2 separate regions of the Homo sapiens genome follow, and region 2 is linked to region 1. A link means that fine-mapping ties the variant in region 1 to the expression of a gene that starts in the linked region. Tissue or cell type: whole blood. Region 1 holds a variant in brackets; the other region holds the start of a gene. All regions are shown on one strand. Distances are from middle to middle.

Region 1 (8,106 bases):
CATAAACTTTGAAGGGAAAGTAATGTCTTTTGATTATCTTAATTTCTGCAGTTCCTAGCACCTTGTCTGGAATGCAGTCTGCACCAAATAGAAAATTATTCAGAGAATTATACTAACATTAAAAATATATATAGTAAAAATTATGAATATTGTTCAATGAATTCTTCTGTCATAAATATATTTTTCAGAAACTTTAATTGTTTAGTGACAGACTCACATAAGATACCACATGGAATACCTGATTTCTTAAATTTGGCAGACAGAGGGGAATGAATATTTTACTGAATATCTGTGAGCCAGGCACGATGCCATGATTTGTGTATTTTTTATTTCTGAATTTCATAACTGGAAATGTATTTCATATATATGTTATGTACCAAAACGTCCCAAAAAACTTACGTCACCTTTAGAAAATCATAAAAACCTCATCTTTCCTTTGGAGAGATTATCATAGCTTTTTATCTCCATTTGTGAATTACCATTTTATAGCATTATTATCTATGTTTTCTTATAGCTTTTTTTGTGTGTAAATATAAAGTATGCTTTAGTTCCAGTTGGTAGAACTAGTTGCCATGAACCAGTGGAGAAGAGCAACCAAATTTTATTTGATTATCAATAATTGGTTTTTAGCTATTTAGTCATATTTATTCTGGCTTGTTTTGACCTTTAATATTTTTCTTAGATAAATATTTCCTTGTGTATGAAATTATCACTCAAAAGATACTCAGTTATTTCCCAGATTAAACTATGACTTGTACTAAATATTTAGCTTTTTTTTTGTTTTGAGACGGAGTCTGGCTCTGTCACCAAGGCTGGAGTGCAGTGGCGCAATCTTGGCTCACTGCAAGCTCCGCCTCCTGGGTTCACACCATTCTTCTGCCTCAGCCTCCCGAGTAGCTGGGACTACGAGGCGCCTGCCACCACGCCCGGCTAATTTTTTTGTATTTTTAGTAGAGACAAGAGTTTCACCATGTTAGCCAGGATGGTCTCGATTAAATGTTTAGCTTTTAAAAGCCACTTGAGATCTCTATCTGCTAGCATAATTTAGCATCTCATTTTAGAATGCATCTGTATATTTTTTATTTTGAAAGGATATGATTTCTCTTAATCTTAATTCTCTCTCATATCCCGTACACATGTAGCATTGCTTTTTATTGAATGAATTGTCAGTTTTAATTAGGCATGTTTGAAGTATAGCAACAGCTGTTCATACTTCAGGTGGTAGTCCAGGTAAGGCTTTAAGTGTTGCATTCTCAGTAGAGATTTTAGTTCCAGTTAGTTCCCTGAGTGATAACCTAAGGCCCACAGAGAGAATAATGCTGTATGAATGAGTGTATTTTTAAGATTAGCTTTGACGGAATTTCTGACTCCATCTTAACTACACTAAGACTTCTTTGAAAAGGTGTATCCTCTTTAAAAAATAAGGGTCAGTTTGTTCCTTGTTGCTTTTATAAGAACTGGCCTTGACTCAGCTAACCTACTAATTAAACCAAATATGAAATGGACTGGTTTTGGTCAAAATTAACTCAGAGATTTTTAGTTAAATAGGTGGGATTTTATGAGAGTGCCACATCTTTTCCAGACTTGTTTTTTTTTTTTAAGCCAGTCAGTGAGTTCTTCCAAATTATATCTCATAACACTTAAGTAAATAGTCTGTAAAGGTGAAAGTGTTATATTAATTTTGTTTATAAGTTATTTTAAAAGCTGCAGTTTGTCAGTTTGCCTGTATTATTTGATAGATAACTTATTAATGTCATTTGATTTTTTAACCCAATTTTTCTTAGCTTTGGTAGGGCACGAATATTAAATGACTTTATAAGCCCCATAACCATTGTGATTTTTTTAAACAGATATAGAAACTTTAATTTTAGAGGATAGTGAAGATGAAAATGCTTTATCAATTTTTGAGACCAATTGTCACTCAGGATCACCAAAGAAACAGTCATCATCTGCTGCTATACATAAACCCTACCTTCATTTTACAATGTGAGTGATTTATATCAACTTTCTTTGTATTTAGAGTGATTTTTGATACTTTATGATTAGAATTATGGTATATTTTTACTTATGGTTATAACTGTGAGGATATTGTTTTTCTGTTGTTTGGACACAATTCTGGAAAACTTTTACTATGTATTCTTTTTCATGTGGTAATAGTTAGTTTGTTGGTTAACTACCTAGGTGTTTTTTTCTCCAAGTAGAAGAATCTTTCCTGCTACTTTACTTTTTTTTTTTTTTTTGGGAGGCAGAGTCTCACTCTGTCACCCAGGGTAGAGTGCAGTGGCATGATCTTGGCTCACTGCAACCTCTGCCTCCTGAGTTTAAGCTATTCTCGTACCTCAGCCTCCTGAGTAGTTGGGATTACAGGTGTGCGCTACCACGCCCAGCTAATTTTTGCATTTTTAGTAGAGATGGGGTTTCACTATGTTGTCCAGGCTGGTCTCGAATCTCAGGTGCTCTTCCCGCTTTGGACTCCCGAAGTGCTGGGATTATAGGCGTATGCCACTGTACCTGGCTAAGTTTACTTTTTTTTAAAGTAATGGTGTAAATTTTTTCCCCCATGGAGGCAGAGGAAAGCTTACCCTTAGAAAGTCAACTCATGAGCCCCAACTTTATTGCTTTTTCTTTAAACTAAAATGGGCAGAAATGAAATATTTGCCATGATCTGGAATACTTTAATTTGTAATAAACTTTAGATGATCATTTAGGTCTCTAAGGCTGCTAAAGAGATTTCGATTTAGAAATTGTTCAGTAATTAAATAACTTTTTGATTTTCTAGAAACATTATACTTGCATAATTTGGATTTTATGATTTTTCAATTTACATTTACCCTTTTATTATCTGTGTTAAAGCAAGTTTTGCTGTGCACTATAATAGGTAAACACTTTTAGTGCAAATGTAATTTTAAATTAAGAGGCCAAATAGTTTTCAAATACTAACAGCATCTTTACTTGCATTTACATAATTAGCCCCATAGTTGAAGGACCATAAAGCTTCAGTCAGGTAGATCTAATAGCACTTCTATTAGAAGAGGCCGGATTGTGTGTACTTTTAATATTTTGAACAAATTTAAGTCTCCAACTTGAAGTTTTCCCATGTAGATTTTGGTGAAATGTTGATTTGATTATTTGCATTGATAACCCTTTCTTGTTTTTCATTTTTAAAAATGAGCCTAAATTACTTTCATCTCCTCTTTTTTTCTTCATATGTTCTTTAATAGCAAACTCTTTGTAAGTTTTTTTCTTCTTCTCCAGATCCTTTCTTTTATGCTCTTGGGGAAGTTTTTTTATAGGCTATTCCAGCATTTTACAGATTTGTTTTATTGATAGTTATGGGAAAGCCAATTTTTTTTTTTTTTTTTTTTTTTTTGCTTTTCACCTGGCTAGCCTGTGCGTCTGTGTCTCTCTGTCTCTCTCTCTTTCTCTCTCTCTCTCTCCCCCCTCCCTCTCTTCTTCCCTCCCTCCCTCCGTCTCCCTCTCTTCTTCCCTCCCTCCCTCCCTCTCTTCTTCCCTCCCTCCCTCTCCCTCTCTTCTTCCCTCCCTCCGTCTCTCCCTCTCCCTCTCTTCTTCCCTCCCTCCTTCTCTCTCTCTGTGTGTGTGTGTGTGTGT[A/GTA]ATGTGTGTGTGTGTGTGTGTGTGTGTAATGTGTGTGTGTGTGTGTTTATGTGTGTTTGACAGTTATAGTTATTTGGATTTGTATTATGTAGTAGCAGAAACTAAGTAAGTATCAAAAGACGTGTTTAATTTTATAAGATAATTGTCGTCAATAAAGGAATACAGAAATAGATTTTGATATTAGAAAGTATCATGTACAGTGTTAAGTTTGACTTTTTATTGAGGACATTTCCTGCCACTGATTTAATGTGAAACATTGGTATGGCTCATTTTGTTTTAGCTTTTCTGAAAGAATTGGTTTAATTTTAGCTTCCTTTACATAAGCTTTTCTAGTTCATTCATTTGACTTTGATTAAATAATGAGACAGCTATATGCTAGAATAAGCATTTTTTAGATGTTTTAATAATAATTATTCACTTATTTCTTTATTCACCTACCCATTTGTCCAATTTTTCTTTGTTTACCCTATGCCAGGCATTGTATGAGATGCTGAAAACATAAGCATGAATAAGATATAACATAGTTCTTACTTTGGAGAAGGTCTCATGGTTGGGGGTGACAAACATTTCAATATGGCGAAAGTGCTGTGAAAGCAGAACTAATTCTGCTGGAAGTCTGGGAAGGTTTCACAGGAGAAGTAGTGATATTTGCTGTCCTTTTCATTATGAAGGGATGGGAGTTTGCATCTGAGTGCTTTTTACAAATTAGATACTTGCTTGGTATGTAAAGATCTGTGCTTCATATTCAGTAATATATATAGGCCCCTTAACAATCATATTGCATTTGTGGTATCTTCATTTTATAGATGAGGAAAGTGAAGCACACAGAAGTTAAATAAATTGCCCATGATCCTGTTGCTAGCAGGTGGCAGAGCCAGACTCTGTGCTGTTTCCTAAGACCATATTTTTCCAAGTTATTTCTGAGCTTAATAAGTAGCTAGGGAATTGCATTGCTTCTTTAGGTAAGTTAAGCCATATATTTCACACTCTCCAAGAAGCATACACTTTAGAATTAAGGCCTTTAGTATGGGCAACATATAGTCTTTTTTGTTTGGTTGGTTTAGTTTTCTGTTTGAGCAAGATACGTTAGCATTACAGATCAATGCAGAAGAAAAGGTGCTCGGCCAGAATAAAGCATAACTTTAGTGCTGGTTTTCAGTCACACTAGCCTGGGTATTGCTGGTGAATTTCTGGGAATAGTCTCCTGAAACAATGTTGAAACCTTTTCTTTTTTACATTTAATATAAAGGAGAAGTCAAGATAGTTAAGGTTTACCAATCTGGTAGAGAAGCTTTATGATGGAAAATAAATTTTCTTTCTTACTTTATATTACCATAAGGGTGACTAGAAACAGAATTTTCTGAGGTTTTTCAAATGAAAATAGCTTTGTTTTTTCTGATTAGAAAGATGATATACACTGTAGAAAATTCAAGTAATAAAGAAGAGCATAAAGAAGAAAGTAAAAATTAAAGCCCCAGCACCTGCAGGTAATATTTGTTAAAGTTTTGGTGACCACACTTCCATGTCCTCTCTATGCATGTATAATGTATAGACCCATACATTATCTGGATTATATCCTCCTATAAGTTGTTAATATAACTTACTTTTTCATCCACTATGTTGGGAATATTATTTCATGTCAGTGTATGTTTAATATGACTGTTTTAAGATAGCTGCATATTATCTTACACTTTGGATATTCCATAATTTATAGACCCTTATTGGTAAAATTTGAAGTTTTCAAGTTTCTTCTTTTATGAACAATAGACTTGTTTCTAAGTATACATCTTTACACCACTATCTGATTCAAAGCATAAGGTAAATTTTAAGAACTGCAATTGCTGTGTCAAAGAGTGTATACATTTAACATGTTGACACAGATTGTTAAATTGCTTTCCAGAAGGCTTGTACTAGTTTACATTTCTCATACTAATGTATGAGAGTAGTATTTTTCTTATACCATTGTCAATTCTGAGCACTGTCTTTTAAAATCTTTACAAACCAGATAGATGAATATAATATCTTTTTGTTTAGTTGACTTGTTCATTTGTTCTTTCATATATTCATTCACTCATTCAAATGTTTTGTAAAAGTGCCCATCATGTTCCAGACATTGTCCTGGGTAGTTGGGGTAGGTCAGTGAACAAAATAGGGTAAGATCCTGGCCCTCATTTAACTTATATTTTTAAACAGAGGAGACATTCAGTAAAATAATAAATGTAATAGCTTGCTAGATAGATAAACTGTTAGAAGATAAGTACTATGGGGAAAAAATGTAGAAGATAGTAAGAGGCTGGGGAATCCCTAGGAGTGGAGTGAGTTATTGAATACTTTTGGGCATACATTTTGGCATATTTAGATCTATCACATATAATTTCAGAAAAGTTGTGCTTTTCTTCCACTAGTTGTGAGGATATCAATTTTGCCATCCTCTCATTGATAATGGGCATTACAATTAATTTTTGGTTTATTAATCTAACAGATAAAAGATGTCCATCATTATTTTCATTTATATTTTCTCATTTTTTAAAAATCTCTGTGTTAATGACTACCATTTTGTTCTCAAGCCTAGATTGCTCTTGAGCTTCAGACCCTGACCAGTGGCCCATCTCCCCTTTGTTGTACCATGGATCTTTCCGTACATAGCTGGACTGTATCATACGCCCCTTCTCTTCCTGTGACTCCTATGAGCCATCATTCATTCAGTTGTCTCAGCTAGAATTTGACATCATTCTCAACTTCTTTCCTTTTATTTCTTTCTTTGTCTAGTCAATGACCAAGTCTTTCTGATTTTTCTTACTAAGTAAGTCTCATCGCAGGCTATTCCTTCTTTCTCTAACACTATTCTTGTTGAACTGTCATTCACATGTCATGCCTGGGTTACTATAGCAGATGCCTGATTATCTTTCCTCTCATTTGCCTTCTTTCAAAACCCTTTCCCATACTGACAATGCTGAGATAGAGTTATCTTCCCTAAACATGTATATGATTATCTTGTTCCTCTAAAGTATCTTAATGCTTCCCCATTGTCTTCAGTACACATTCCAAACTTTTTTTTTTTTTTTTTGGAGACGGATTTCATTCTTTTTGCCCAGGCTGGAGTGCAATGGTGTGATCTCAGCTCACTGCAACCTCCACCTCCCAGGTTCAAGTGATTCTCCTGCCTCAGCCTCCCAAGTTGCTGGGATTACAGGTGCCTGCCACCACGCCTGGCTAATTTTTTTTGTATTTTTAGTAGAGTCAGGGTTTCACCATGTTGGCCAGGATGGTCTCGATCTCTTGACCTCATGATCTGCCCGCCTTGGCCTCCCAAAGTGCTGGGATTACAGGTGTGAGACACTGCGCCAGGCCACATTCCAAACTTTTAACGTGGCTTACAAAACCCTTTGTAGCCCTTCATAGTCTAACTTACCTTCTTTTTTCTCTCCCCACCCTAGTACCTTTACTGTACCCTCCACAACTTGTCCCCAGTACTTCAAAACAAACAAACAAAACCAAAACTGGCTGTATGAACTGTATTAGTTACCCCAAAGAGCCATGTTCTTTTTAACTGTTGGTCCTTTGCACATCCTGTTTGCAGTCTTGGAATTCATCTCTTGTACCTCCAATCTTTTGGGTTTCTGCCTTGGTAACACTTTTCCAGGAATGCCTTCTATGAGTCTCTAATTGGTATCTTCCATAGCACTGTGTACTTAAACAGTACCCCTTATTAATCACATTGAACTATGGTAATTTGTATATTAACTTTTTTACTAAATACCACTCAGTTATGAGCTCTATGATAACACTGGTATTGTTTGATACTTAGGGCTAAGGCATTCAGCATAGGAGGCATTCTATAGTTATATAATTAAATAAACATTTTAAAAAGTTTCCTATTTCTATTTTCTCTTTGAATTGTCTTGTTTTACGTCCTTTGCCCATGGAGGTTTTTGAAAACTATGCATATAAACTCTTTATACATTAAGAACCATTCCTGTTTATGACAAATTCTTTTTATTAAATTTTCTTTTTATGTTTTTTCAATAATTTTGTTTCTGAGATAGGATGTCTATGTCGCCCAGGGTAGTCTTGAACTCCTGAGCTCAAGTGAGCCTCCCAACTCAGCCTCCCAAGTAGCTGGGATTACAGGCATGTTCGACCGTGCCCTGCTCTGTAGCAAATTCTTTATGCCATTTGGTTGTTTGCTATTTGGTTCAGATTATAATTTTTGGGTTACAGAGGTTTTTAGATTATTATGAATTAAAAATAAATGAATCTTTTAATTTAAATTTTGTGTTAGAATTCATTTTGTTTATGCTGTGAAATGACCTGAATCCTCCGTTTTTAAACATTTATTTTATTATCCATTTCTCTTCCTTTTATTTTATTTTATTTTTGAGACAAGGTCTCATTCTGTCACCCAGGCTGGGATGCAGTGGCACCATCATGGCTCACTGCAGCCTTGACCTCCTGGACACATGTGATCCTCCTACCTCAGCCTCCTGGTGGCTGGGA
Region 2 (8,087 bases), 230 kb before region 1:
CTGGTCACAGGGAGACCCTGCTGCCTTGGGCTTTAGCCCTGATCCAGAGGCAGGCACCTCTGGAGAGAAGCTCAGAGGACAGCCCTGCCTTGGGAGGGGAAGGACTGGGTGGGGGCTGAGGGGGTGAGACTTACCTGTGTAGTGCACCACACACGTTTGGCCCTTCTTGGGGAATGTCCTTCCTGCAGGGAGACATGAGGGCAGATGAAGGAGTAGGATATTGGAAAAACACCTGGGACATTAAGTATGATCCTGACCAAGAGCTCCAGCCTGCATTCCCCTCCATGCCATGGAGATGCCTGTGGCCCTAGTTCTGGCTCTGGGCCCTGTACGAGCCAGAATGAATCACGTCACCTCTCTGGCCTGGATTTACTTTACCCCCTCAATTTTCTCAATTCTGCTGTCTCCTGGGCTTTCCCACCACCCCACCCCCACTTTCTTTGATTGCCCCTTTTACTTCACATCATCCATTCCACAGACATTTACAGTTGGCCTCCTATGTGCCAGGCCTGGACCAGACTTCAGACATGCAGAGCAATGTATGAACTCATGAGGAAGGTAGGGAAACAGACACACAAATACCAGATTACAATGCAGATTATAATCCATCCATCAAAGATGAATAAACACAATAATTTACAAATATTTGCTGAGAGGCCAGGCATGGTGGCTCACATCTGTAATCTCAGCACTTTGGGAGGCTGAGGTGGGAGGATCACTTGAGCTCAGGAGTTCTAGATCACCCTGGGTAACATAGGGAGACCCCATCTCTAAAAAAAAAAAAAAAAAAAAAAAATCTTTTCAATTAGCTGGGTGTGGTGCCGCATACCTATAGTCCCAGCTACTGAAGAAGCTGAAGTGGAAGGATTGTTTGAGCCCAGGAGGTCAAGGCTGCAGTGAGCTGTGTTCATGCTACTGCACTCTACCCTGGGTGACAGAGCAAGACCCTGTCACAATAAACAAACAGACAAAACAAAACAAAACAAAACCACAAATATTTACTGAGTACCTATGGTGTGCCAAGCCTGTGCCTGATCACAGGGATACAGCAGTGAACACTACAAACAAGATCTCTATCCCTGTTCTTTTAGAGTTTACTTTTTTTTTTTAAGAGTAGGGGTCTCAGTGTGTCACCCAGGCTGGAGTGCAACAGCATGATCTCGGCTCTGTGCAGCCTTGACCTTTCCTGGGCTCAAGCAATCTTTCTTCCTCTGCCTTCTGAGTAGCTAGTACTGCAAGTGCATGCTGCCATGCCCAGCTAATTTTTTTAAAAAAAATTTGTAGAGACAGGGTCTTAACATGTTGTCCAGGTTGGCCTTGAACTCCTGAGCTCAAGAGATTCTCCCACCTCAACCTCCCAAAGTGCTGAGATTATAGGCATGAGCCACCAAACCCGCCCTGGAGTTTATATTCTAATGGACAGAGACAATACTTAAATATACAAAATGATTATGGATTATGATGAATACTCTAAAGAAAATACACACAATGATGTATTAAAGGGAGATGCAGTGGGACAGGCCATTTCAGACAGAGTGGTCCAGGATGGCCTCTTGGAGAAGGTGCCCCCTGGAGCTGGGACTTGAAGGATGAGCAAAATACTGGGAAATAGCACTTGGGAAAGGAGTAACAAGTGCACAGAATCAACACATTTGCAGTGAGCAAGGAGGCTAGGTGCTGGAAAGAAGGGAGGGAGGAGAGAGGTGGGAAGGACATGGATCATGCAGGGCTTGAAGAGCCGGATTTAATACTAAGTGCAATAGGAAACCACTGGAGGGTTTTAAGCCAGAGAATGACATAATCTGAATTAAGATTTTATAACATCACTCTGGCTGCTATGTGTAGGATGGACGGTTAGGCGTCTGTTGCAATAATCCAGACAAGAAATCAATGATAGCTTGATTTAAGGTGGTGGCAGCAGAGAAGAGAGTGAAAGATTGGAGACATATTTTCGAAGCGGAGCTGACAGGTCATGCAATCAGACTGGAAATGGGGTCCAGGATGAGGACAAAGGAGACAACAAGAACGATGCTTGGGTTTTCTGTTTGGGCAACTGGATGAATAGTGCAACTATTTCCTGAGATAGGGAAGACGGGAGGAACAGATTTGTGCGGGTGGCAATCTTGAGATGCCTATTAGACATCTGAGTTTATATTGCAAGTAGGCAGATGAAGAGTCTGCACTGGAGGTATAAATTTGGCTGGAATTTAAAGCTACGGGGCTGGATACAAAGCCTAAGGAAGCCTAACCACAGAGCCGATATTTAGAGGACTCTATGGGATCCTGGAGGAGGGAGCAGCTAACTGACCACAGAAGTCAAGGAAAACATCATAGAGGAGAGAATGGTGAAGCCAGGTCTTGAAAGACAAGTAAGAGTTTGCCAGAGGAAGTGAAAAAACACCATCTGGGAAGAGGGAACAACATGTAACATGTTCAAAGGCCCTCAGTCCAGCAATAGCGGGAACCCTGTCTGTTTCAACTGTGTCACCTTAGGGCCTAGCACACACGTTCAATAAATATTTGCTGAACGAGTGGTGTGTTTGACAACTTGCAGGCAGCTTGGGAAAGCTGGAGGAAAAAGTTAGTGGTGGGCTTAGGACAGGTGGTGAGAGATGAAGCTCTAGTGTGGAAGATGAGAATAGACCATAGCACCAAAGGCCCCTCCTGGGGGAGAGGGAAGAATCATTAAAACATCTTCTGCCTGAGGGAGGGGCATAGTCAAACATGCATTTTTTTTCTTTTTTTTTTTTGAGATAGAGTCTTGCTCTGTCACCCAGGCTGGAGTGCAATGGCACAATCTCAGCTCACTGCAACCTCTGGCTCCCAGGGTCAAGTGATTCTCCTGCCCCAGCCTCCCGAGTAGCTGGGATTACAGGTGCGTACCACCATGCCCAGCTAATTTTTGTATTTTTAGTAGAGACGGGGTTTCAACATGTTGGTCAGGCTGGTCTCGAACTCCTGACCTTGTGATCCGCCCGCCTCAGCCTCCCAAAGTGCTGGGATTACAGGCGTGAGCCACTGCATTTTAAGAAGAGTCTTCAGGCTATGATATAGAAAGGGAGTGAATATGAGATTGGGGACGAGATTGAAAGCAGGGAGGAGAGACTGAAGATGGGGAGATTAGCTCAGGGGCTGCTGAGGGATGAAAAGGCCTCAGGGAGATGCTTTCTGGGACCCAGCAGCAATGTTTCCTGCGTGGGCAAAGAAGCCTGTACTCCAGGGGATATCTGAAGTAGTGGCTGGGATTGGACAAGGAAGATGGCCTGGAGCCAAGAAGTTATCCAATTTCCTGGGGAGGGGAGCTGTTCATATTAATAATATCTGATATGAAGTTTGCCCATCAAACCCTGCAGACAATGGGGGCTTTGGTATTAATTAAATTTCAAGAAATAAAGAAATGGCTATTCCTTGCACACCCAGACCCAGTAATACAAGGACTTGGGAAAGTGAGACACGGAAGGGGGATAAAGAGGATCACTTAGGAGAGAAGGTGGGAAGCGAGAGTTCTGTTTTGGACTTGCTGACCAGGGAGCACCCTGGGACGTCCAGGGAGAGGTTCGGCCGTAGGTCGCAGGGCTGGGCTTAGAAGCTTCAATGTGGAGGCCATGGGAGTGGACAGGGTGGCCAGGGAGTCTGAAAGCGGCGGCAGGATAAAGCGAGATCCGGAAGCGGGCAAGGGAGCGCTTCCCCCTTCCCCAGCCTGGGTCTGTCCCCACAGCCGCTCACAGCCCGGCCCGCAGGGAAGCGACCGAGGGGAGGCCCGGCGGGGGACGCGCTAGGAGGAGGTCCCCGAGCAGCGGGTATCCGAGAGCAGGTCCTGCTTTCCAGAGCTCGCCGAGTAGGGCAGGGAAAGCGAAGCCGAAACCCAGGCTGGGGTATCAGCAGCAGCGGATAACCGAACGACTGCAGCCGCGACAGGAGAAGCCCGGGGCGGTGGCGGGCCGCAGACCCCCGCCTCCGGGCCGCAGACCCCCGCCTCCGAGCTGCCGCCTACATTCCCCTAGGTGAGCGCGGAAGAGGATGGCGGAGGATGGTCTCCTAGACCCCCAAGAATCCCGTCCGGCGTCTCCGCCTGCCTTCCCCATCCAGCCCCCCGACCCTTCAGCACCCTCCACGCCACCTCCGAATCAGACCCCCGCCCTCCGGGCTCCGCCCCGGGACCCCTCCCCTCCCCTGGCTCCGGAGGGAGCCCGGTACCGTCTCCGGGGGAGATGGTCTCGATCTCCACGCCCATAGCGGTCCCACAGGCCCCGCCTCTGGGGGGTCCCTGCTGCTGCCCGACCCCGGCTCGGCTCCGGCCCCAGCCCCGCCGTCGCTCCGGCTCGCCTCCTCGCCGCCACTGCAGAGCCGGAGGAGGTGCGGCTGGAGTCGGGACCTGCGCGGGGAGGGGCCACTGGCAAGGGGGCGGCGGGGCGGAGCCGCGCGGAAAGGTGGGGTCGGCCGGGGCGGGGCCCGGGGGAAGGGACCCCGCCCGGCTGTTAGCGAGCCTGGCCCCGCCTGACGACATTAACCCACTGACCAGGGAGCGTGGTAAGCACAACCACATCCTCCATCCATCCATTCATTCGCGCATCCGTCCAATAGACATTTATTTAGCATCTAATCTGTAGTAAGCTCTGGGAAGTCAACCCAGTCCTACAGACTTGTGGGGGGTGGGGGGCAGAAGGGGCAAAGGCCGGCGATTAAACCATCATTTTATTTTTATTTTTATTTTAGACAGAGGATCTTGCTCTGTCGCCCAGGCTGGAGTCCAGTGGCGCGATCATAGCTCACAGCAACCTCGAACTCTTAGGCTCAAGCGATCCTTCTTCCTCAGCCTCCACCCAAGTAGCTGGGACTAGAGGCGCGAGCAACCACGCCCAGCTAATCTTTTATTTTTTATTTTTATTTTTTGTAGAAACGGGGTCTCGCTGTGTTGCTATCTAATGAAACCATCACTTTAATTAGATGCGCTCAGTGCCGTGCAGTTCAGAGCGTTGCGGAAGCACAGAAGAGGTTCCTACCCTCGCTAGGCGTCCTGGATCTGTAGGAGCAGAGCTGGGGGAGGGAGGGAGGACACCAGTAATTGCTGACTCTCCCCCATACCCCTAAACCCCTGTTCTCCATCTCGTGTAGTTCTGCTCGACGCACATTTATTGGGTACTCAATTTTCAAGGCAAAGAAATGCGCCCTGGGGATACCAATAGAATTAAGACAGGTTGGCTGTCTTCCAGGTACTAAGTCTGAGAGGGACGGGGACACACAGTTACTGCATGGAGTGATTAGTGCTGTGGAATGAATGAATGAATATGTAAATGAATTCTACTTTGAGTTCCTCCTCCACCAAAAAATACATTCAGGAATCTAGAAAAATATTTTTTGGAGGAGGTAATATTTGTTTAAAGGGTAATTGGGACTTTTAAAATTTTTTCCCCCTCATTATTACCTGCATTGTTCCAAAAATTGATGTGAGGCCAAGTATATCAATTTTTGGAACAATGGCTCACACCTGTAATCTCAACACTGTAGGAGACCGAGGCAGGAGGATTGCTTGAGCCTAGAAGTTCAAGACCAGCCTGGGTAACATAGCGAGATCCCGTCTCTCTCTCTCTCCTTTTTTTTTTTTTTTTTTTTGAGACAGAATCTTCACTCTGTCGCCAGGATGGAGTGCAGTGGCACAATCTCGGCTCACTGCAACCTCCGCCTCCCAGGTTCAAGCGATTCTCGTGCCTCAGTCTCCCAAGTAGCTGGGATTACAGGCGTGAGACACCAGCGTTCGGCTAATTTTTAAATTTTTAGTAGAGACAGGGTTTCACCATGTTGGCCAGGCTGGTCTCGAACTCCCGACCTCAGGTTATCCGCCCGCCTCAGCCTCCCAAAGTGCTGGGATTACAGGCATGCCATCTTTATTTTTAAAAAAAGAAAAGAAAAGAAAAAGAAAAACATAAAAACTGATGTGAAGATATGATTCTCCTGAGTGGCACTGGAAGATAGGCATGGGGAGAAAAGCCTGGCAAACTGGTCCAGAATGAGCCCCAAGGGTGTTCTTCCTCCATTTCCTCATCCCCACTCTCCCGGATGCTTAGGTCCCAGATGAGGTTGTCTGCATCCCTGAAGGTGTTCTGGCTGTGTTGTTAAAGAAAGATGATTGTCGACTGTACTGTGAGGGTCAGGACCTGGAATTCCTCATAGGTCTGAAGAAGCCTAAGGGACGCACTAAATCCATAGGCTGCGGCCAGAGCAGGCACGCTTAGGGTCGGGGTAGAACAGGGATTTGTAGCTGGGACAGGCCCATGCAGCGGCTTCAGCTCAATGCACAGTATTTTGTGTACAGATAAGAACATTTTCCTGAGAGATTTTATCAGATTTTAAAGAAGGTTAAAAAGCCGTGGTGATCCTAGGGCTCCTGGACTCCTTAGACAAGAGAACCGACGAGAAGTGGGGAAAGAGCTCAAGTGCTTAAGGGAGGGAAAATGTGGCGGGCTTGCGGTCGGTGGTTTTACGGGGACTACCACTCCCAGCGATCCGTGCGGCAGAGCCAGAGCTTATTGGCCAGTGGGACGAACCCTCTGCTAATGTGCATATTCAAAAGCCAATAGACGGGGCCATCTCGGAGCGTGCCTATCCTATCAGAGGACCACCCACCTATCAGAGGACCGATATCACCGCCCACCTATCAGAGGACTGAGGGCCGGTGCTTCCGGTGGCTGCCCAGAACTTCTTATGTGCGGCGGCGTGATGTTGGGCGGCCACAGAGAGATTGGTGTTTTTGTGAGGCAGTGAGACCTAAGGTATTTCATCTCCACTGCTGCCGGGCCTGGCGGGTGTGGGGAGGCTGTAGGGGGTCAGGAGGGAAGTGGATCGGCTCTTGGTGGGTAGGGGGCGGGAAGGAGGAGATTCAGGCGTGCAGAGAGGATGAGGAGAATGGGGCGGGCCGCGTGTGAGGGGTCGCGGGATGAGGATCGAGCTAGGGGTGGGTGTAAATGAGGGATTATGACCGTGACTCGTGAATAACACTCCTGGGAATATGTCCCAAGGAAGTCATCCAAAGTCAGGAAATGCTTTAAGCCTTAAGACCTCGGTCCGAGCTTTATTTATAGCGGGTAGCGGGATAAAGTTGGGTACAGCTAGGAGCAGTTCAGTACATTATGTCACTTCACTGAGTGTATGTGAAGTGGCCTCTAAAACTAATTTATTAAACTTTTAAATAACATAGGGAAATGCTAATATATAATGTTAGATGAAAACCGTGATACAAAGTTGCACAGTATAACTGAAAAAGTTTGACAGCCAAACTATGCATAGAAGAGTCTAGAGGGATTAGTCATAATTTTCTTTGGATGAATGTTTTTTCGTTAACTCTTCTTAATTTTTTTCTTGTGTATGATTTTTGTTTCCAAATAAGTGTAAAGAACTTGAAATCATTTTATAGTGGAAATACAATAAACTTGGAAAACAAGTTGGGGGAGGGATGTACTTTTGTTTAAACCTGCTGGAAATGCCAGTTCACCTGAATCCCTTGATTCTCGTCATGAGTTGTCTTTAAAGAAGATGAAAAACAGAATTAAATGGTTATATACTGAGCACCGGCTCTTAGTTTTCTGACCACCTCTCCGGAGACCTGAACTAATACAGTGGTCTTTTCCCTCCTAAAACACCCAGGGTTCTTGATTTCATGTTCTCCAAAAAACTTATACTCTGGAGATTGTGAAACAATAGGTATACAATTAGTTTCAGGCAAAATCAGTAGCGTTGGGGAATGCCTGAAGAGCATTTAAACCTTGGTCCTCCTGGCCCTCTGATCTTATACAGTGAGGTTCTCCACTACCTTGACTTTAATGATTAACCCTATGTCAGTGATTTCCAAATCCTTACCTCTGACTGCCTAAGGTACATTGGTACCATGTAGACATCTTACATGAAGCACATGTTAATTTCAATTTGTCACATACTACACACGTTCCTCCCCTACTGCCCCCACCCCCACCTCCCCAACAGGGTCTCACTCTGTCACCCAGGCTGGAATGCAGTGGTGTGATCATAGCTTACTGTAACCTTGAACTCCTGAGCTCAAATCCTCTCAGCCTCCATAGTAACTAGGACTGCAG

The links. PIP is the estimated chance that this variant, and not a neighbour inherited with it, causes the effect.
Region 2: FKBP1B starts here. The variant in region 1 is fine-mapped to the expression of FKBP1B in whole blood (INTERVAL, PIP above 0.99).

Annotation. Positions count from the first base shown.
Region 1 is chr2:23,813,627-23,821,732 of GRCh38, reverse strand. ATAD2B (ATPase family AAA domain containing 2B) reads left to right here. Exons shown (of 28, transcript NM_017552.4): 17 at 1,851-1,986. Among named protein-coding and RNA genes, the nearest start is that of ATAD2B, 110 kb to the left of the region's middle. The variant A/GTA (reference allele first, on the strand shown) is at 3,610.
Region 2 is chr2:24,045,997-24,054,083 of GRCh38, reverse strand. It overlaps FKBP1B (FKBP prolyl isomerase 1B), which reads right to left and starts at 4,343. Exons shown (of 4, transcript NM_004116.5): 1 at 4,198-4,343; 2 at 135-182. The coding sequence starts at 4,234. WDCP (WD repeat and coiled coil containing) reads left to right here and starts at 6,693. Exons shown (of 4, transcript NM_025203.3): 1 at 6,693-6,770. RefSeq lists silencers at 54-245, 4,182-4,481.